Linked DNA regions of Homo sapiens. The protein of the gene in region 1 interacts with the protein of each later gene in a biochemical or structural test. Each region holds a gene or a part of one and is shown in the gene's direction. Other genes may lie near its edges.

Region 1 (7,029 bases):
CTCATCTCCCCAACCACTGAATAGAAAAATTGTGTATAGGCATATTGTTTGTATATATTTACACTCTTATAAAGGAAGTGACCATCCCTTTCATCAGATTCTTAGAAAGGTACATAATGTTAAGAAAGGTTAAAACGCATTAGCCACCACTGTTTTTCACCTTCCAAAAACCATCTGACACCTAGCAAGTGCCAGCCCTCATTTTCTGAGTCTCAAAGCTCAATTGCTCCTGGAGAAAATGTGTGATCCCATTTTTGGTATTTGTTTTCTCTCTTTTAAAAGCTTCCTTCCTACCAGCTACTTTAACTATGACTGTGGACAAGGGAGATAACGTGAACATATCTTTCAAAAAGGTATTGATTAAAGAAGAAGATGCAGTGATTTACAAAAATGGTGAGTATGTGTTTCATTGCTTTCCCCAGTATGATGTGAGATATCAGATAACATACAACATATTGAATCATTTTCCTATTGTGGTCTTGTGGGCAGATGTTTGAATTAAAGCTGCTATGATGCAAGCTTTCAAATTCTGTGTATGATAGAAGCCCTCTTAGGTGACATATTTGGTTACTTAAGGATATTAAAGTGGAATTCATATATATGAATGTACATGGTGTATGTACATACAATAAAACCCCATCATAATGTGAGATCCCAACTTCAGCCATATAAAGTGTGAGTTTCTTTGATTGTGACATTGTTGATTGCAAGGTTTAGGAAATTACCACAGTAAACATGGGAAGCCAATTGTTAGCAGTTCTGGCAGTCCAACTGTGTAATCCAAATGTGTCTAGGTCCTAGCTATGGTTTCGTACCACCCAGTGTCAGTTGCCTGATCCAGCTGGAATATTGATGGGGATCATTCTGAAGTCTGTGAGTGGATAGGACTTCCAGATTGGAGTAGCGATTATAGATATCTCCTGGTTAATTGGTTAGTTGACAGGGTTACCTATCATTTTTCACCTAACTTTGCCTGCCAACTATGTTCGCCTCTCCCTGTAGAATGTAAGAACTTAGACCACCCCCATCTTCATGTGTTTGGTGGTAGATCCCACAGACTAACCTATCTGTTCTATCACTATGACTTTCTTGACTATTGAGAGAGTACTGAATAGTTCAGCATTTTCATTCTTCTCCCACATCCAATATGTGAGAGCACATTTTCTTGACCATGTCAGGGAAAGCTAATTAAGTGGAGAAACCAGACAAGGAAGCAGGTATGTTTCAGTGTGACCTACGGTTCTTCACTCTTCCCTCTTACTAGGTTCCTTCATCCATTCAGTGCCCCGGCATGAAGTACCTGATATTCTAGAAGTACACCTGCCTCATGCTCAGCCCCAGGATGCTGGAGTGTACTCGGCCAGGTATATAGGAGGAAACCTCTTCACCTCGGCCTTCACCAGGCTGATAGTCCGGAGTAAGTGATGGAGAGGCCACCATTTGTGATGGTGTAGTTGTTAGGTTGTTAGGATTTTTAGTTGCAAATAACAGAAACTAACCATGGCTTCTTAAGCAAAAACCAGGCATTGGTTGGAGGTTGTATTAGTCTGTTCTTATGCTGCAAAGCAAATGAATAAGAGATAGCAATCATTAGAGGAATGACAGAGAAACCCAGGTATTTAGACCTGAAGACTTAAATATTTAATATTACAAATACTTGATACAGCTGGGGAAAACTCAGGGCAAATCATTTTCTTTTCTCAGGGCAAATCATTTCTAATTTCACATGCTCTTTATTGAGACATACCTGAGACTGGGTAATTTATTAAGGGAAGAGGTTTAATTGACTCACAGTTCAATATGGCTGGGGAGACATCAGGAAATTTACAATCATGGCAAAAGAGGAAGCAAACACATCCTTCTTCACATGGCGGCAGGAGAGAGAAGAATGAGAGTGAAGGAGAGGGGGAAGCACCATATTAAACCATCAAATCTCATGAGAACTCACTCACTATCATGTGAACAGCATGAGGGCAACTGCCTCCATGATTAAATGACCTCTTACCTCCTACTGGGTTCCTCCCACAACACGTGGGGATTATGGGAACTACAATTCAAGATGAGATTTGGGTAGGGACACAGCCAAACCATACCAGACGGGGACACTAAGGACTCTTAATAAACTGATGGGAAAGCTGAAAAGTGGCTGGGTACGGTGGCTCATGCCTGTAATCTCAGCACTTTGAGAGGCCCTTTGAGCTCAAGAGTTTGAGACCAGCCTGGGCAACATGGCAAAACCCCGTCTCTACAAAAAATACAAAAATTAGCCAGGCATGGTGATGCATGCCTGTAGTTCTAGCTATTTGACAGGTTGAGGTGGGAGGATAGTTCAAGCTCGGGAGGTCGAGGCTGCAGTGGGCCAGGCTGGTTGAAAGAGCAAGACCTTGTCTCAAAAACAAAAACAAAAACTATAAAGCAAGTTCCAGAAAAGATAAGCTTCAAGGAAGAGCTGAGGCTCAGTTGTGGTGGGTGTGGGGAGGTAAGGGAGTGGGCTTTCTCTCTAAGATGCTGCTTTTACCATGTCTCAGCTTCAGCAATGTTTCTTTCACTTCCAAATTTTGAATTTCCAGGATAAATAATCAGATTGGCCTAACATATATTAGATGTCTATCAGCCTAGACCAGTGAGCTATAGACAAGGGTGGAGTCACGTACTACACGTTACAGGCACTAGAAGCTCACATTTGTACAGCATAATCATCCATATAAAAAGGGGGATCACAACGAGTAAAGCAGTCTCACTGAAACGTGTCTGCTCTAGGGGGATGAGTTGGACCTCTTGGGTTAGACTAACATCTGCTTAAACATTGCCTCCTGTAAATCCCACACTTCCCAGGTCATTTAACTCTTATGTGTGATTTTTATTTTCAGTTTTGAAAAATGTAAGAGTTAGAACTAGTAAAAACTTTTTTTCTCCATTATAACTATTGAAGTGGGGGCATAAATATCACCATTACATTTTCCTGTAATTTTTACAGGAACTTCACAAATAGAAAGAAAATGATTTGCCCTGAATTTTCCCCAGCTAGATCAGGTTTTCATAATATTAAATATTGAAGTCTTCAGGTCTAAATGCCTGGGCTTCTCTGTCATTCCTCTAACGATTGCCATCTCCAATTCATTTGCTTTGCGTTATGTTCCCCCATTCATTTACCAAAATGTGTTGGTCATAACTCTGTGCCAAGAATTGTGTTGGTGTTGAGAATACAGGATCATAAGATAAATCCGTGTCCTTTGGGTCATTCCCAATCAGAGTAGGCACGTGTATAATTAGCTAAATAAATATTGAAAAATGACAATAGAAGTATGAGAAGTGTGGTTCCTCTAGTTTATGCTCCATGCTTAGCCACCTCTATGGACATAAAATATAGCAAGGTGTTTTATAGGCAGGACTATTTGGGCTTGAGTCGAGGGGAATCTTTCCACGTACCCAAGACCTATTTCCTTCTGGATGACTACTGTGCTTGACTTCTATTAAATGTCAGAGCAGCCTTTTTGTAATATGAATCTTAAAAAATATAATTTATGATGATAGCAAAACTGCAATATTCAGCTTCTAGTAGCTTGCCTCACAGCTACCTTTACATGAAGTTTCTGTGGACTTGGGAGAAGCAAGTGACATCCCCTTTTATTCCACTACTCAGGAGAGTCTGAATGTCAAGGAAGCAATTTGCCTTTATTTCATTTAGCTAGTTTCTCTGGAGTCTGATATAACACCATGTACTAGGTGTACTCAGAGGGTAAATGGGGTACATCTTCTAGGAAGGTCAGACATACCTATACATGTTGATATATAGTTGTTTGAGATAGGAAAACCAAAGTGTTTTTCCTAATCTCTGCTCTCACTGAACACAACACTTCTGACACCAATGTGCACAGATTACTACGCCACTTCTAGAATTTCTCATTCAGTAGGTCGTGGTTGGGTGGGATCTGGGGTTTGCATTTCTAACAGATTCCCAGATGATGGGGATGCTACTGGTCAGAGACCACACTTTGAAAACCACAGCTCCAGCCTGTAACCATACCTGCAGCTCCCTGGACATGCCATGCTGTCTTCCCATGCCTTGTCTTTGCCTGGAAGACACTCTCCAGCCTTATCTTCTTTGCTACTTAGTTGGTCCTGCAGATTCAGCTTGCATACCATATCCTCTGGGAAGCCTTCCTTTATGCCCTCTTCTATCCACCAGACAGAGTTAGGTACTCCTTGTCTTTGTTTCTGTCGCGATTTCCTGTTTACATGTCTGTCTCCCATATTAGATGATGAGCTTTTAGAGAGCAGAGCCTGTATTTTATCTTTATTCACCATTGTCCACTGAATGACTGACACACAGTAGGTGCTCAATAAAGATGTGTTGAGCGAATGCGCTCTACTCACCACAGCCTTGTTTTCCTTAACAAAAGGATGTGAAGCCCAGAAGTGGGGACCTGAATGCAACCATCTCTGTACTGCTTGTATGAACAATGGTGTCTGCCATGAAGATACTGGAGAATGCATTTGCCCTCCTGGGTTTATGGGAAGGACGTGTGAGAAGGGTAAGTAAAGAGACTTGATAAGTAAGCTGTGGATTTAAAAAGCCATCGTTGCTGGATCTAGAATTTTAGATCTCGACACAGATGGGAATGGACGCTAAATGGCCTCTGTTAGGTCAGATGGTACCTGTGTGTGAATTAGAAAAAGGTGCCTTTTCCTAAAGGTTCTTTAATGCCAACCACTGGAAAGTTATAATAAATATACAGATCCGTGATGTTTACAGTGTGAATGCTGCCCCCTAGGTTTGTGCACTGCACAAACCTGCATGATTGTGAGTGATGTCCCTGATGTCTGCTCTGTGGGGCAGTTTCATTATCAGTAAAATGGGCCATAAGGGTATGTTCATCCTACCATGCCACAGCTGAGATTTGACTGTTTCCCATATTCACTAGACTAGGAGAAATGAATCTAAAGAATTATGTATTTCAAGGGGTTGCATATTTGACTCTGAATCATCTTTTCTTTTCCTCCCAAAGCTTGTGAACTGCACACGTTTGGCAGAACTTGTAAAGAAAGGTGCAGTGGACAAGAGGGATGCAAGTCTTATGTGTTCTGTCTCCCTGACCCCTATGGGTGTTCCTGTGCCACAGGCTGGAAGGGTCTGCAGTGCAATGAAGGTATGCACCAATCACACCCTTGGACAGAGGATGTTCTAGCAGGTATATAAAGGAGATCCAGTTTGCTGTCAATCACAACATCGGATATACCTGGACTGCTTAGCTACCCACTACTGGACAACAGGATTTTGAATCATGGATGTTTACATCCAATGTTAATTATACTTTCACAGTAAAAATCTAGACCGCATAGAAAGTACTTCTCATAACTATCATCTGGGGATCTTTACTAAAGCACGGATTCTGATTTGGTAGGCATGGACTGGGGCCCGAGGTTCTGCATTTCTAACAGGCTCCCAAGTAGTTCCGATGTTACTGGTTTTCAGACCATGCTTTGAGTAGGAAGACCATAGAAGACTTGTTTTTTTTTTTTGGTTTTTTTTTTTTTTTTTTTTCAGTGAATCATAAAATCACAGCTTTAGCCAGGCATGGTAGCACATGCCTGTTGTCCCAGTTATTCAGGAGGCTGAGGCAGGAGGATCCCTTGAGCCCAGGAGTTTGAAGCTGCAGTGAGCTATGATTGCACCACTACACTCCAGCCTGGGCAACAGAGTGAGACCTCGTTTAAAAAAAAAAAAATCAAAATCAGAGCTTTTATGTCAGATCCAGACAGGATTTGGGGCTCAAAAATTGAAGAAGTTAAAATCTTACCTGCCGTGGACCTTATGCAAGTAGTACTAACATCATCTACTCAGAGTCCCTCTGCCCTTTGTAAAATAAGCTTTCCCATTTGACCAGGCTCTGTGGAGTGCATCTGACATCCACTTTTCAGTATGCATTTCACATCTACTGTTGCATAGTAGCTCAACATGAACCTGCAGACAAATGTGACAGAACCTCCCTAATGTATATTAATACTGTGAATTAGCCAGAGCTCAAAGGCTTTTCAGTGTTTATCTCACAAAGTCAGCTTTTCCCATATCCGGCACTAAAGGTAGCTACGATGGGGTCCCAGCAACTTGATAACAATGCTCCAGGGCAGAGCAGTTCAGTAGAAATATAAGCCATCCACATATAGAATTTAAAATTTTCTAGTGTCCACATTAAAAAAGTGAGGAGAAATAGGTGAAATAATTTTGATCTATTAACCCAATATGTTAAAAACATTATCAGTTCAACATGTAATCAATAGAAAAAAGTATTAATGAGATATTTTACATTCCCTTTTTCATAGTAAGTCTTTGAAATTTCAGTTTGGACTAGCTATATTTTAAGAGTTCCATAGCCACACGTGGCTAACTGTACTGGACAGCATAGCTCCAGGGGCTTGGAGGAGGAGGACAAAGAGGAGAGTTACACAAAAGTAAGCTTCAGCCACCTGCAATACCTCATTCAGTTCCCTCTAAATGCTATGTCTGCCCCCCGGAACATGCAGTGAGCCACAGCAGTGGAGAAATCCCATCTGGCCTCTGAAGTGTGTATGTTAAGGTAAAAGGTGACTCCAGGCAGGGGGCAGATCCCTTGTATTTTAAAAAAAATTAAAATGTTACGCAAACTATGAACACTTTGCTAGGACCCAGGAAGCGGTGCATGCCAGCAGTCTCTAGAACATAAACTTCATCAGCTTTGTAGTGAATGTGTCTCTGGGCCCAGGTTTTTTTGTTTTTTTTTTAATTCTTTTTATTATTATTATTATTATTATACTGTAAGTTTTAGGGTACATGTGCACAATGTGCAGGTTAGTTACATATGTATACATGTGCCATGCTGGTGTGCTGCACCCATCAACTCGTCATTTAGCATTAGGTATATCTCCTAATGCTATCCCTCCCCCCTCCCCCCACCCCACAACAGTCCCCAGAGTGTGATGTTCCCCTTCCTGTGTTCATGTGTTCTCACTGTTCAATTCCCATCTATGAGTGAGAACATACGGTGTTTG
Region 2 (7,029 bases), on another chromosome or scaffold:
AGGCGGAGGTTGCGGTGAGCCAAGATTGTGCCACTGCACTCCAGCCTGGGTGACAGAGTGAGACTCCATCTCAAAAAAAACAAAACAAAACAAAAAAAAAAACAGAACAAAACAAAACAAAAAAACATTTGAGACATTTTATCAGTTGTCCCAATAGCAGAGGGTAACTTTTTTTTCAATCCTTTGCTTGCATCATTGAGTTCTTTCAGGCTTGAAGTGCCTTCCCTAAATGAATTGCTCTAGGATATTTCTTATTTGTTATTCCCAAGCATAAACAAAATACAAAGTCAGTGTTTTCCCAGGATTGCACAGAATATATAATTCAGCTATTCAGAATCTTATCAGAGAGGAACTGTAAACTCAGGCATACTCTTCTGTATATTCATAGAACATCTTCATCCCATGCAGATTTACCATATGTACTGAGTATCTATGATCACCTGTAAATACAAGGAATGCATATGAGTAATGAGGAGTCTGCTATACTTTTGCCTGCATTGAAAAAATGCTTTAAACCACATATTTTCAGGATTTGTGTTTAAAAGACTTGGCCATGCTTAATTTTTAAAAATAAAGGTAGAAAGTGGACAAACTGTTTGAAATATTTGATACGAACAAATTATTTAGTTTGTTTTAATGTATATATCAAAGAAAACAGAGAATCCTTGCCTACACAGAAGTAATTACTTCTTCTACCTTGAAGTTAGGATATTTTATAATAAAACTGAAATTGTCATGAGAAATAATTGCTCTTTTATTTCATTTTCTTCCATCTTAATTCATCATCTTTATTATCAGTTGCTCTGAGATAGATCACAGAATTCATGGCCCACTAGTCTTAAGATAAAGAGTTAATTGAACATTTCAAACTCCTTGATTTGTCATGAAATCAAAATGAAACATTTAAAAAAATTAGGAACTTAAATGCCAAGTTTTTATAACATGAACATTGTACAGTTGTACTTATTTGGGTCTAATTATTTTCATATTTCTCTAATAAACCCCACTAAGCAAATAAGAAAATATGTTGGCACTGATGACCTTGTCTTTATTATTAAATTACTGTGATGCTCCACAAGGTCTTGTCTCTTTTTTTTCTGGCCTAAACATTCTGCCCCATTTTCTAGATAACTTACAGCTGGCACTTTAGTAGGATTTTACAGGCTGTAATAGTGCATTATCTTATTTGATTCTTATAACTGTGCTGTGAAAATGGTTGGTTAGCTCTTAGAATCTATGTATTATGAATGTGACCTTAAGCAGTTCCTTAAACTCTGTGAGCATTAGTATCTTTATTATGGTACTTGCCACATCACTTAAGGCTGTTTGGGGGATAAAATGAGAAAATGCATATAAATACCTTCATATGAACGATTCAATAAATATCAAATACTATTGGTACTATTGTGTAGGATCTCTTGGTTATTTATTGATGAAGTAAGCATGAAAAGTCTGGGTCTTCTAACTTCTGCTCCGGCGCTCTCCAGGCTTCCCATTGCCCAAAAGAAAATGTCTAAAGGTGTAATAAAAACCTTTATGTTTTCCCTCCTGTTTATTTTTTAGCCCTATATTCTCCAACCCTTTAACCCACTGGCACTCCAGCCAAGCCAACCTGCTGGCAGACACTCTCCCCTGGTCTTCCAGAGTACAGACTATATAGAAGCTCTTTCTGTCCAGTGAACTCATACCCATCTTTCAGGACCCAGAGCAGCTGTTGAATGAGTGAGCTTTGTGGTCCCTCAGACAGTTAGCACCTACTGCCTCTGTGTTTCCATCAAATTTTCTTCTTCTCTTAGTTTAACGGCTATCATCTCAATGTGTAGCATTTTGTTTGTCTCCTACACAAAACTGTGCATGCTTTAAAGTCAGAAATTTTGTTTCCAAAAATTTCTGTCCCCTATCCCTATCCATTGGTTAATATTTGCAGAATTGATTCTAGACTCAATTTTCTCCTTTTTTTTTTTAAGCTGTCACATATGCTCAGGATGGCTTTGGAAGATCGTAGAGAATGAGGACTCTAAACCATGTTTGATTAAACATTTAACCTAGCAGATCTGGTTCTTCTGGTTCGATTGTGGTTCCCATCTGTAGAGAATGTTTTACTTGTTTGCCTGATCATGGACAAGCAGGCTGGCTAAACTACAAATTGTTCCATAAACATTGAACTTCTCACCAGGACTGCCTATTCCTCCACCTTCATTTCCTGCAAGTCATTTCTTGTTTACTGTGCACCAGTTGCACTGATGTCCCTACACATCCCAAGCTTGTTTTCTTCCTCATCGCCTTTGCAGGTGCTGTATTCTGCTTAGCAGGGTCTTTTCCCATCTTCTTGGGGCTGTCTCTCTCCTCCTTCTGGTCTCGTTAAATATCAGCTTCTTTCACAAATGTGAAAAGTCAAGTTATTCTCCTTCAGAGCTCCTACGTATTTTCTTCATGACATTTTAAGTCATAATTTATATTAGGTTGGTGCAAAAGTAATTGCGTTTTTTGTCAATAACAGTCATGGCAAAAACCGCAGTTACTTTTGCACCAACCTAATAGTTATTTTATGTGCCTGCTTACATATATTCATCTGTTTCTCCCATTAGAAGTGAGTTTCATGAAGGCAAGGACTATGTCTGTCTTGAGTATTGTGTAACAACGTTTCACAATAATTATATATTGAATGGATACATAAAGAAAAAAATGAATACAATAAGGACAGGTGTTACATTTTGGGGTATCTATCAAATACAGCATTTTAGTAAGCTAAACAACTTCAGACAACAAAGACTTCACAAGGAGAACCAATCAGAGAGTCAATCAGTTAACAAGCCTGCAGTGACCCGCCGGTCATTTGGGAAGCAAACTTCGTTAGGTGTCCTACTAAGTACAGGAGATGGGCCAATATACAAACCATGGCTTTCCATTGTTTTTAGGATGATGAACAAAACACTGGGTGATTTGCTTCAGACCCACTTAGCTTCAGGTGACTATCCCCCTCGTTGATTGTGACCCAGCCATACTGGCCTTCCTTCAATGTCTCCAAAATGCCATTCTACTCATTGCAAACATTACCCCACTTTATTCCTTCAAAAAGCTACACAAGATCAATTTACCTGACTCTCTCACAGGCTCTTACTGTTTCTTGTCTCTTTCCTAAGTTTTCCCAAAGTTTCCCAATGAGCGTATCCTTTAGCCTGTGCTCTTTATTGCCAGGCTGTTGTTGCAACAGACGTCTGTCTTTCCGCACTCCTCTGGGACTCCTGTGACTTTCTATAAACCAAATAAACAAAAACACACATTTTACCCCAATGCAACTTGGAAGAGAATTCTATGAATCATTGTCAGTCTCAACAATAGAGTAAGTGTGTTTGCTTGAGAGACCATGGTGCATATTTGAAAGACTATAAAAAAGTTCATTAATGCAATGGAAAAGTGCTTCAAGAAGGTCACAGAAAAGGAGGAGAAAAGTTAAAAACAGAATCAATCAAGTTGAATTTCATCTTAGAGTTTTATTTTAGTCCTTTAGAAAGAGTCTTTTGGGCAAATAAATTCACTAATATTAGAATGCTTTTTATAATATAAACAGCATATTTAACAGCTGTACTGATCAAAAATTAGAAGAATTAATCTTAAGAAAAACAAAGGTAGGATTTTACTTGCAGTTCCTCCTTCTTTTCCAAACAAGAACCTTTTTGTCCCTCATGTTTTGACTACATTAACATTTATGTTGTTTGCATACAGTTGATAAAACTGCACGGAATATAATGTCTTTCCAAATTCATCAAGACATACCTTGTGGTTCCCCACTATGAACTGGTGATTAATGCAGCTTGTTACGCCTCTAGTGTGACTTTATAAACACAAGCCAGCTGTACTCATCTTCTAAAGTTGAAAAATGAGAACTAGCTTTTCTCCATTTGACTTCTTCTAAAGTTTCTGCAAGATTGTGCTCATGTTACAGTTAAACATCAGCTGTACAGCTTTCTCTTTCTTTAGCTATTAGTCCCTTAGGTATAAGTCTGTAATCAAAGAGAGGTCAACTGTATCCAAATAAAAAATATGCCAGAATGTCTCTGGCATAAATCTCTCCCTAAAGATTCAGTAGTGTTACTTCAGCAGACAGGAAAAAACACTATGCTTTATCTAAAAATCTAAGAACTTAATTTATTTAAAAAATAAAACTGACTTATCCAGTTATCCTTATAGAGAGCTATACAAGCATAGAATTTCCATGTTACTCATCAAGTTGTTTTTCTTTTTACTAAGTTTGGAAAGCACTTAAATAACCATAGACAAAATATGGCTGTACAGGAACTGAATGGCTACTATTGCTGAACACTTTTTCTACTGTTATAAACTACAGAGAGGGTACGTTAATTAAAAGCCCTTTTGAGCATCATAGTCATTGCACAGTATCCAATTAATTTTAGAAGCAGCTTAGGGCCAATTATTGACAAACATATGCAGTAGATGGAGAATATCTTTCTATTTAGATCTCAGTTGCTTGTCTAAGTTTCTGCATTTCTTCACTAATAATTAATTGTTCTATTCCCAATAACAGTCTTAAGATGGAATGCCTCTTATGGGTATATGCATTTTCCTTATTGCATTTGTCTTAAATGTAAATCCATCTCTTATGTAGATTGTATCTTGAAGCCCAGAGGCTTCCCATCATTACAAGAAGAAGTGAGTTCCAGTGGAGTCACACTGAAAGCTGCTTTCCATGAGAGCATTGCTGTCTGTGATGGGTCATACAAATCTTAAATCAGAAGTCATTTAAAACAGTTTCACTACTGGGAATATATTTACTGATGCCTCGTAATTGCAAATAAGCATAACAAGAACAAGCAAGTTTCCCATCATTTAATGCCATTAATTTCCAAATATTCCATTTACTTAAAATTGTTGCCTCTCCTTCTCTCTTCTATTATGAATTATTTTTTCAGGATGGTGGTTTGATGCTTGTGGCCCCTCCAATCTAAATGGAATGTTCTATACTGCGGGACAAAACCATGGAAAACTGAATGGGATAAAGTGGCACTACTTCAAAGGGCCCAGTTACTCCTTACGTTCCACAACTATGATGATTCGACCTTTAGATTTTTGAAAGCGCAATGTCAGAAGCGATTATGAAAGCAACAAAGAAATCCGGAGAAGCTGCCAGGTGAGAAACTGTTTGAAAACTTCAGAAGCAAACAATATTGTCTCCCTTCCAGCAATAAGTGGTAGTTATGTGAAGTCACCAAGGTTCTTGACCGTGAATCTGGAGCCGTTTGAGTTCACAAGAGTCTCTACTTGGGGTGACAGTGCTCACGTGGCTCGACTATAGAAAACTCCACTGACTGTCGGGCTTTAAAAAGGGAAGAAACTGCTGAGCTTGCTGTGCTTCAAACTACTACTGGACCTTATTTTGGAACTATGGTAGCCAGATGATAAATATGGTTAATTTCATGTAAAACAGAAAAAAAGAGTGAAAAAGAGAATATACATGAAGAATAGAAACAAGCCTGCCATAATCCTTTGGAAAAGATGTATTATACCAGTGAAAAGGTGTTATATCTATGCAAACCTACTAACAAATTATACTGTTGCACAATTTTGATAAAAATTTAGAACAGCATTGTCCTCTGAGTTGGTTAAATGTTAATGGATTTCAGAAGCCTAATTCCAGTATCATACTTACTAGTTGATTTCTGCTTACCCATCTTCAAATGAAAATTCCATTTTTGTAAGCCATAATGAACTGTAGTACATGGACAATAAGTGTGTGGTAGAAACAAACTCCATTACTCTGATTTTTGATACAGTTTTCAGAAAAAGAAATGAACATAATCAAGTAAGGATGTATGTGGTGAAAACTTACCACCCCCATACTATGGTTTTCATTTACTCTAAAAACTGATTGAATGATATATAAATATATTTATAGCCTGAGTAAAGTTAAAAGAATGTAAAATATATCATCAAGTTCTTAAAATAATATACATGCATTTAATATTTCCTTTGATATTATACAGGAAAGCAATATTTTGGAGTATGTTAAGTTGAAGTAAAAGCAAGTACTCTGGAGCAGTTCATTTTACAGTATCTACTTGCATGTGTATACATACATGTAACTTCATTATTTTAAAAATATTTTTAGAACTCCAATACTCACCCTGTTATGTCTTGCTAATTTAAATTTTGCTAATTAACTGAAACATGCTTACCAGATTCACACTGTTCCAGTGTCTATAAAAGAAACACTTTGAAGTCTATAAAAAATAAAATAATTATAAATATCATTGTACATAGCATGTTTATATCTGCAAAAAACCTAATAGCTAATTAATCTGGAATATGCAACATTGTCCTTAATTGATGCAAATAACACAAATGCTCAAAGAAATCTACTATATCCCTTAATGAAATACATCATTCTTCATATATTTCTCCTTCAGTCCATTCCCTTAGGCAATTTTTAATTTTTAAAAATTATTATCAGGGGAGAAAAATTGGCAAAACTATTATATGTAAGGGAAATATATACAAAAAGAAAATTAATCATAGTCACCTGACTAAGAAATTCTGACTGCTAGTTGCCATAAATAACTCAATGGAAATATTCCTATGGGATAATGTATTTTAAGTGAATTTTTGGGGTGCTTGAAGTTACTGCATTATTTTATCAAGAAGTCTTCTCTGCCTGTAAGTGTCCAAGGTTATGACAGTAAACAGTTTTTATTAAAACATGAGTCACTATGGGATGAGAAAATTGAAATAAAGCTACTGGGCCTCCTCTCATAAAAGAGACAGTTGTTGGCAAGGTAGCAATACCAGTTTCAAACTTGGTGACTTGATCCACTATGCCTTAATGGTTTCCTCCATTTGAGAAAATAAAGCTATTCACATTGTTAAGAAAAATACTTTTTAAAGTTTACCATCAAGTCTTTTTTATATTTATGTGTCTGTATTCTACCCCTTTTTGCCTTACAAGTGATATTTGCAGGTATTATACCATTTTTCTATTCTTGGTGGCTTCTTCATAGCAGGTAAGCCTCTCCT
Region 3 (7,029 bases), on another chromosome or scaffold:
GAAAATAGAATTGCTAAAAAACTATTTACTAAAAACATTACCTTAAAGGGAGAGGATATTTGTGTTTTCCCCCACCCCCACCCTTCTCATGTGGCTTTGAACAAGAAGGAGAGTTGCCAGGAAAAGAGGCAGATTTCAGAGAGGGCTGGCTTCACTGGATCCTCCCTGTTGTTCCACTGCACTGTGAGTGAGATTCCCTGGAGCAAGCGAATCTCCCGGGATGAGTCAGAGAGGCCAACAGTGTGGATGTGGGTCTCCACACATAGCATGACTAAGTTGAGAAAGAAAGGCCCCACTGGGAAAAGAGACTTCAACACAGATGGAAAAAAAACATAACAGGCTTGGAGGAAATAGCAGTTTACAAAACAGCATTTCAAAGAGCAAGTGTGGGGATCCTCAAATTAAAGAAATTAAAAGAAAAAGCTAGAGCAAGCTCCTGCTAGCCTAAAGAAACCAAACCCTGACTACTTGCTCATAGAACTGTGAGCAAAACAAGACAGTCAAACCAAAAAATCCACCTAGAAAAGAATTTGGCAGTCTCACTCAGATGCCTGGCCTAGAGGGGACTTCAGAGAATGCCCTACAGAGAGACACCAAGACTACAAATGCAAATTCTGCCCAAAGAGTGCCTGGCCGATGAACAGGGTCCTATCTACATCTTATGGAGACTCCTATTTTATAAATATGTATCCTCAAGTCCAAGCACAAACAAAATAACAGAAACAGGGATGATTCTCTCCCAGTTTCCATGACAGTAAATAATAAATTTCCCTAAATTTTACTTTCAACAACATAGACTTTTTTTATTTTTATTTTTATTTATTTATTTATTTATTTTTTGAGACGGAGTCTCACTCTGTCACCCAGGCTGGAGTGCAGTGGCATGATCTGGGATCACTGCAACCTCCACCTCCCAGGTTCAAGCAATTCTTCTGTCTCAGCCTCCTGAGTAGCTGGGACTACAAGTGCACGCCACCATGCCGGGTTAATATTTGTATTTTTAGTGGAGACGGGGTTTCACCATGTTGGCCAGGCTGGTCTTGAACTCCTGACCTCAAGTGATCCACTGGTCTTGGCCTCCCAAAGTGTTGGGATTACAGATGTGAGCCACTACACCTGGCCAACAACACAGACTTCTTAAAAAAATCATGACAATAATTTTGGGTGCTTCTTAAAAGCACCCAAAGCTTTACTGCTAATGCATGGTAGCTTAAAACTTCACATAATAAGAAAGAACCAGTGGCCAATGGAATCTACTGTTAAAGGTACCCAATCAAGTAAGGAAAAGTTGGTCCTAAAAGCAAGCAGCCCTGTAAAAGCTGCTCTGTCCAATATGGTAATCACTAGCCATTTGTGTTTCCATTTAAATTTCAAGTAATTAATATCAAGTAAAATTTAAAATTCAGTTCCTTAGTCACACTAGCCACGTTGTGAGTGTGCAACAGGTAAAGCTAGTGGCACAGACATAGAACATTTCCATCAGCACAGAAATCTCTATTGGACAGTGCCAGATTAGGGTGTTCTCTGCATTGTAAAAGCATCCCCTTGCCAAGTTAAAGAAAACAACAACAAAACTCTAGAGAAGAAATGAAACCCCAGTTTCATTTCTGGAGAGGAAAGAAAACTCATGTGTGGCATGAGTTTATATTCAAGAAGGTGCAGCATTATTACCTATTTTACTAGTAATAATGACACACATTATAGTATACAATCCAGTTCCAATAAAATTAATTTCTCATCTTACTAAAAGCTTGCTGCTCCACATTATGAGACAATTTACCCAAATATAGACATTTACCCAAAAATATTAAGTAGCTTGTGAATACTTTTTAAAATTTCCTTTAATTAAAGTGGTCACAAACTCAAACCCTTCATTCTCCCTCTGAGATTTCTGTGTCATCTTTTGTTCACATTGTTATTCACATGTTTATTATGTACTTATTTTGATTTTCTAGATAAATAAAATGGCTTCAAATCTATAATTCTGATAAAATTAGCCATCAATTAATTTATTTATTAAACCCATGCAATATGCTAGATTAGATGCTTTGCTATGTAATTCCTACAATAAATCCTAGCAATCACAAAGATTACAGTTAGTGAGACGACATGCACACAGGTAAAAAGTGTTTTTAAAAAATACATACATACAACCAAAACAGTAAGTCACTGCTACATGGAAACTGATTGGTCCTTTTTCCTTTTTTTTTTTTTGCCTTGACTGCCAGGAAGCAGTTTCAAATCTATAGCTGGATTTTAAGTTTCATTAATTCATGTTCCCACATATGGTTCTGTATTTTCACTTCCCCCTTTTAACTGACATACTGTCTTATGTGATCTCTACTGTAAGCCTTCTCATCATTTTGGAAACAGACCAAATATAATATATATGATAAGGAATCAAAAGTAAATACAGTAGTGTTGAATATTGCATAACAAAAAGGTTTTTAAATAGGGAATGGTATCAATATGAAGTGTTAGGGAGACCCAGCCATGAAAAGGATAGCAGGGTCAGAGAAGGAGGATGTATTGCAGCTGGTTTAATGGAGAATGGTATGAAGGAGGTGCAGTTTGAATTGGGTCATGGAGGACAGATGGATTGCAAATAGCTGGGGCAAAAGCACAGGAAGGCATTCTAAACGAGCCAGGCATGGAGACAAGAATGTCTCCCACAAGGGAGTTGTAGTAGCTCAATCAGACTGGGATTTGAGATTTCATGTGGCAGAGTGGTAGGTGATAAAGGTGAAAAGACTGATCATAGTAAAATGCGGAGTCTGTAAATCCAGCACTCATGATAAGTTTGGACATCATGTCAACAGTGGACAGCCATAAATGACTGCAAGCATCGGTGTGGTATAATGAAGGTGACGTTTTTGTAAAATGACTCTGGTGAAGGTACAGAAGGTAATGAAAAGTAGCCAGTCTAGTTGAGCAGAAAAGAGTTCAGATGTAATTGCATCATGGTCCAGATGTGAAATGAAGACAATGCGAAGTGGCATTGTGGATCGAAACATACATGCACAAAATGACAGAATTTTAGAATTTGAAGGGATCATCATGGTTACCAGGCTGGCCTCCAATTCCTCTTTTGTAATATTAATAGAAATTAAGGGCTAACAAGTTTAAAATGTTATCCATCTTTTTACATAGTTACTGCCCAAAGTGAATATTTTGAAATGTATCATTAAAGAAGAATAGATAAGATTATGTGATTCACCATGGACTATTGTCATGAGAGGAAAAATGTGTTTAGATGATTCTGTTAGCACTGAGACAAATCAGGATATCTGAAAGGAGGTCTTTGTTGAAAAACAGAAATATGCATTCATAACTTGCTTTTCTAAAATTGGAATGTAATGATTCTTAAATATGCACAGACACAAATTTTTCTTTAACAGTCAAGAAAATGCACGCAGGTGATAATCAGATCAGTTTTGGTTATAGTACAAAGGTTTAATGCCTCCGTGATCCCTTTCAACTTGAAAGCATTCTAGAGCAATTGGTGATTAATATCAGTATAACAGTCATTTATAAAATTATTATTTATTTGATATACATCTAATCAAAGCATAAGATTTATTTTTATTATTATTATTATACTTTAAGTTTTAGGGTACATGTGCACAATGTGCAGGTTAGTTACATATGTATACATGTGCCATGCTGGTGCGCTGCACCCACTAACTCGTTGTCTAGCATTAGGTTTAAAAGATCAGATTGTCTCGGCACCATGTTAATATCTTTTTCTGTTGGCATTAGTATTAGTTTTGCTTGTGTATTTGTTTAGGAGATAGCTTCACAAGTTGGTGATTGATATTCTACCATGTATGAAGTCATGCGTGGAATTCAGAATCCCCAGCTTGTAAAATTGCATTATGATCATCTTTAGTGGGAAATTGTTCTCAGAATACTGAGCAAAGGATGATACCAAAATGGCAGCTATTATTCATTCTTAAGCATATGAAATGCTTTCAGGTTCAACCCAAAATTACATACATTTTAAATGCTTACTAAAAGAGTCTTTTCCCTCCTCCATCTATTAACTGCAATCAAAAAACTTCGGTTTTAACTGAACATGATTTCATATTATTTATTAAAATTTAAGGCAAGGTGCACCAAGTACCCTTGAATTATGAAAAGCTTCATGATGTGGGATATTCTTTCAGTTAACGGCAGGGTTGGCTACACTTTTAAGGGGTTCAAAGTAGGAACAGCTGCAATAGTGAGCTGCATCTGGAAAGTCCAGTAATTTGAAAAACCACCTGTTTATGTATCCTGCCCACTCAAGTCCATAAAATAACAGACACTTTCATATTCCAAATGAAACTGCTTTTTAGTTTGCCCTACTTTTAAACATAACTCTTTGTGATGGAATGACCAGAAACAGCTGGTCTCTAAGAGGACAGGGCTATGTGCGCTCACCTGCGGGGTTGGACCTTCCATAATCCCCCTGGCTGTGGGGAAAGTTGAGGGCTGCTGTCTTTATACAAAGATGGTTTATTCCAAGATACACACACTCTTCTTCCACACCCTGGAGACCTTGCATATTTAGTATCTTCTTTACCATAATCTGAGGCCCTAGAGAAAAAGATTTGCAAACTATACTTGTTTTAAAACAACTTTCTAAAAAAGACACTCTCAGCCCCTAGAAATTATGCCTAACACATAGATGCTCAGAGGCAACCTGTTGTAGTGCAAGAGGATTGTGCCAAGATTAGAAAACAAATATTTGCAACTTTTGTAACTGTCTTCTCTAAAACTTGAATGTGGTGATTCTAAAGTAAAGACCGACACAAAATTCTTTTTCTTTAGCAGTCAGGAAAAGGCATGCATGAAGTAATCAGATCAGGTGTGGTTTCAGCATAATGGCCTAATGCTTTCATGATCTCTTTCAACTGGAAAGCGTTCTAGTCCCACTGGACACCAAGGAGGAAGAAGGGACGGAAAATATTAGGCCCATAGGTTTATCTTCCTCAGTAGTCCACGAGATTTGAGCTTATATGTAGGGAGCAAAATTGTTTGTCTAAAAGCAGTTAATAAATGCCCCAAAAAGGCTGGGCGCAGTGACTCACTCCTGTAATCCCAGCACTTTGGGAGCTCAAGATTGGTGGATCATGAGGTTAGGAGAGCAAGATCATCCTGGCCAACACGGTGAAACCCCATCTCTATGAAAAATACAAAAATTAGCTGGGTGTGGTAGCGCGTGTTTAATCCCAGCTACTGGGGAAGCTGAGGCAGGAGAATGGCTTGAACCCAGGAGGCCAAGATTGCAGTGAGCCAAGATTGCGCCACTGCACTCCAGCCTGGTGACACAGCGAGACTCCGTCTCAAAAAATAAAATAAATAAAATAAAATAAAATAAAATAAAATAAAATAAAATAAAATAAAATAAAATAAAATAAAAATAAAATGAACGCCCCAAAAATATTTTGGGCAAACTATTTTGTGTTTCTTTTCTTTATTTATTTATTTCTTTTGAGACAAAATCTTGCTCTGTTGCCCCGGCTGGAGTGCAATGGCACAATCTTGGCTCACTGTATCCTCAACCTCCTGGGCTCAAGCAACTCCTGAGTAACTGGGACCACAGGGATGTGCCACAATTCCCGGCTAATTGTTTTAGCCAGGATATAAATGCTGCCTACATAGAGTTTGTAGCTATCTCCTTGACTTTCTTTATGCAGATTCCTTCACAAACTTTTGATGGATTCCTTTACCAAATTCTACTGTCTGTTAAAATCTTCTATCTTTATATCTTTAGTCCAAACAACACGTCATTTATAAACCTTAAAATTGTTTCTGGGCAAATAAACAAGGCAAAATAGGAATATATATTTTTAGGCAATTTACTTCTGTTTTGGTCTCATAAAAAATTGTAATTAAATTGTAGAAAATATTTCAATTCCTCTTTAATATCCTCTCCTCACATACTGGCTCTCAACTTCTAATCCTCCTATTGAAACATTGATTGGGAGGCCAAGGCAGGCGGATCAACTGAGGTCAGGAGTTTGAGACCAGCCTGGCCAACATGGTGAAACCCTGTCTCTACTAAAAATACAAAAGATTAGCTGGGCATGGTGGCATGCACCTGTAGTCCCAGCTACTTTGGTGGCTGAGGCACGAGAATCGCTTTAACCCGGGAGGCAGAAGTTACAGTGTGCCAAGATCAAGCCACTGAACTCCAGCCTGGGCGACAGAGTGAGACTCCATCACAAAAAAATAAAAATAAAAATTGAAATTTGCAGCCTTTTTAAAACCCCATAGCCTCTTTATAAACCCAAAAGCACTATCAAATTTGGCGAGGTGTCAAAAGAATCAGAGGAATGTTTACAAATACAGATGCCTGGGCCCACCTCAGATATATATATATATATATATATATATATATATATTTTTTTTTTTTTTTTTTTTTTGAGACGATGTCTTGCTCTGTCACCCAGGCTGGAGTGCAGTGGCATGATCTCAGCTCACTGCAAGCTCCGTCTCCCGGGTTCACGCCATTCTCCTGCCTCAGCCTCCCAAGTAGCTGGGACTACAGGCGCCCGCCACCACGGCTGGCTAATTTTTTCTATTTTTTAGTAGAGACAGGGTGTCACCGTGTTAGCCAGGATGGTCTCAATCTCCTGACCTTGTGATCCGCTCGCCTCGGCCTCTCAAAGTGCTGGGATTACAGGCGTGAGCCACTGCACCCGGCCCAGATATATTAAATTAGAATATCTAGAGGTGGAGCCTGAGTATCTGTATTTTTCAGAGTTTCAAATGATCGTTCTTCAAATGATTACACTGTGAAGTCAGATTTAGAAATGACTGTACCCAAGGTTGGCTAAAAGATACACACCCTGGTTGATTCTACCTGAAGAGAGCAAATAAGATACACAGCAAAGTTGTAGATGTTTTCCCTGCCAGTAGAATACTTGCGGGTTAGGCCATTTAAAACCCTGCCAGAGAGTTTTGAAACACTGTGGAGGGCTCCCAAATCAACTTGCTCAATGGTTCTCCATCCCTTCAGGCTACTTGGGCTTAAAGCCAACT

The links. Proteins that work in one complex are often made in the same cells at the same time.
Region 2: the proteins of TEK (region 1) and ANGPT1 form a complex in vitro, tested with the Homo sapiens proteins (6 studies listed by BioGRID and IntAct, with this or other methods).
Region 3: of the proteins of TEK (region 1) and CAV1, one has a biochemical effect on the other in vitro, tested with the Homo sapiens proteins (one study listed by BioGRID).

The regions. Positions count from the first base shown.
Region 1 is NC_000009.12:27,168,213-27,175,241, forward strand, and holds part of TEK (angiopoietin-1 receptor isoform 1 precursor), read left to right. Parts: intron 1-282; coding exon 283-393; intron 394-1,264; coding exon 1,265-1,417; intron 1,418-4,403; coding exon 4,404-4,535; intron 4,536-5,009; coding exon 5,010-5,150; intron 5,151-7,029. UniProt on the Homo sapiens protein: Tyrosine-protein kinase that acts as a cell-surface receptor for ANGPT1, ANGPT2 and ANGPT4 and regulates angiogenesis, endothelial cell survival, proliferation, migration, adhesion and cell spreading, reorganization of the actin cytoskeleton, but also maintenance of vascular quiescence.
Region 2 is NC_000008.11:107,249,918-107,256,946, reverse strand, and holds part of ANGPT1 (angiopoietin-1 isoform 1 precursor), read left to right. Parts: intron 1-294; exon of another isoform or gene 295-440; intron 441-3,098; exon of another isoform or gene 3,099-3,255; intron 3,256-3,777; exon of another isoform or gene 3,778-3,907; intron 3,908-4,931; coding exon 4,932-5,092; 3' UTR 5,093-7,029. UniProt on the Homo sapiens protein: Binds and activates TEK/TIE2 receptor by inducing its dimerization and tyrosine phosphorylation.
Region 3 is NC_000007.14:116,528,008-116,535,036, forward strand, and holds part of CAV1 (caveolin-1), read left to right. Parts: intron 1-7,029. UniProt on the Homo sapiens protein: May act as a scaffolding protein within caveolar membranes. Forms a stable heterooligomeric complex with CAV2 that targets to lipid rafts and drives caveolae formation. Mediates the recruitment of CAVIN proteins (CAVIN1/2/3/4) to the caveolae.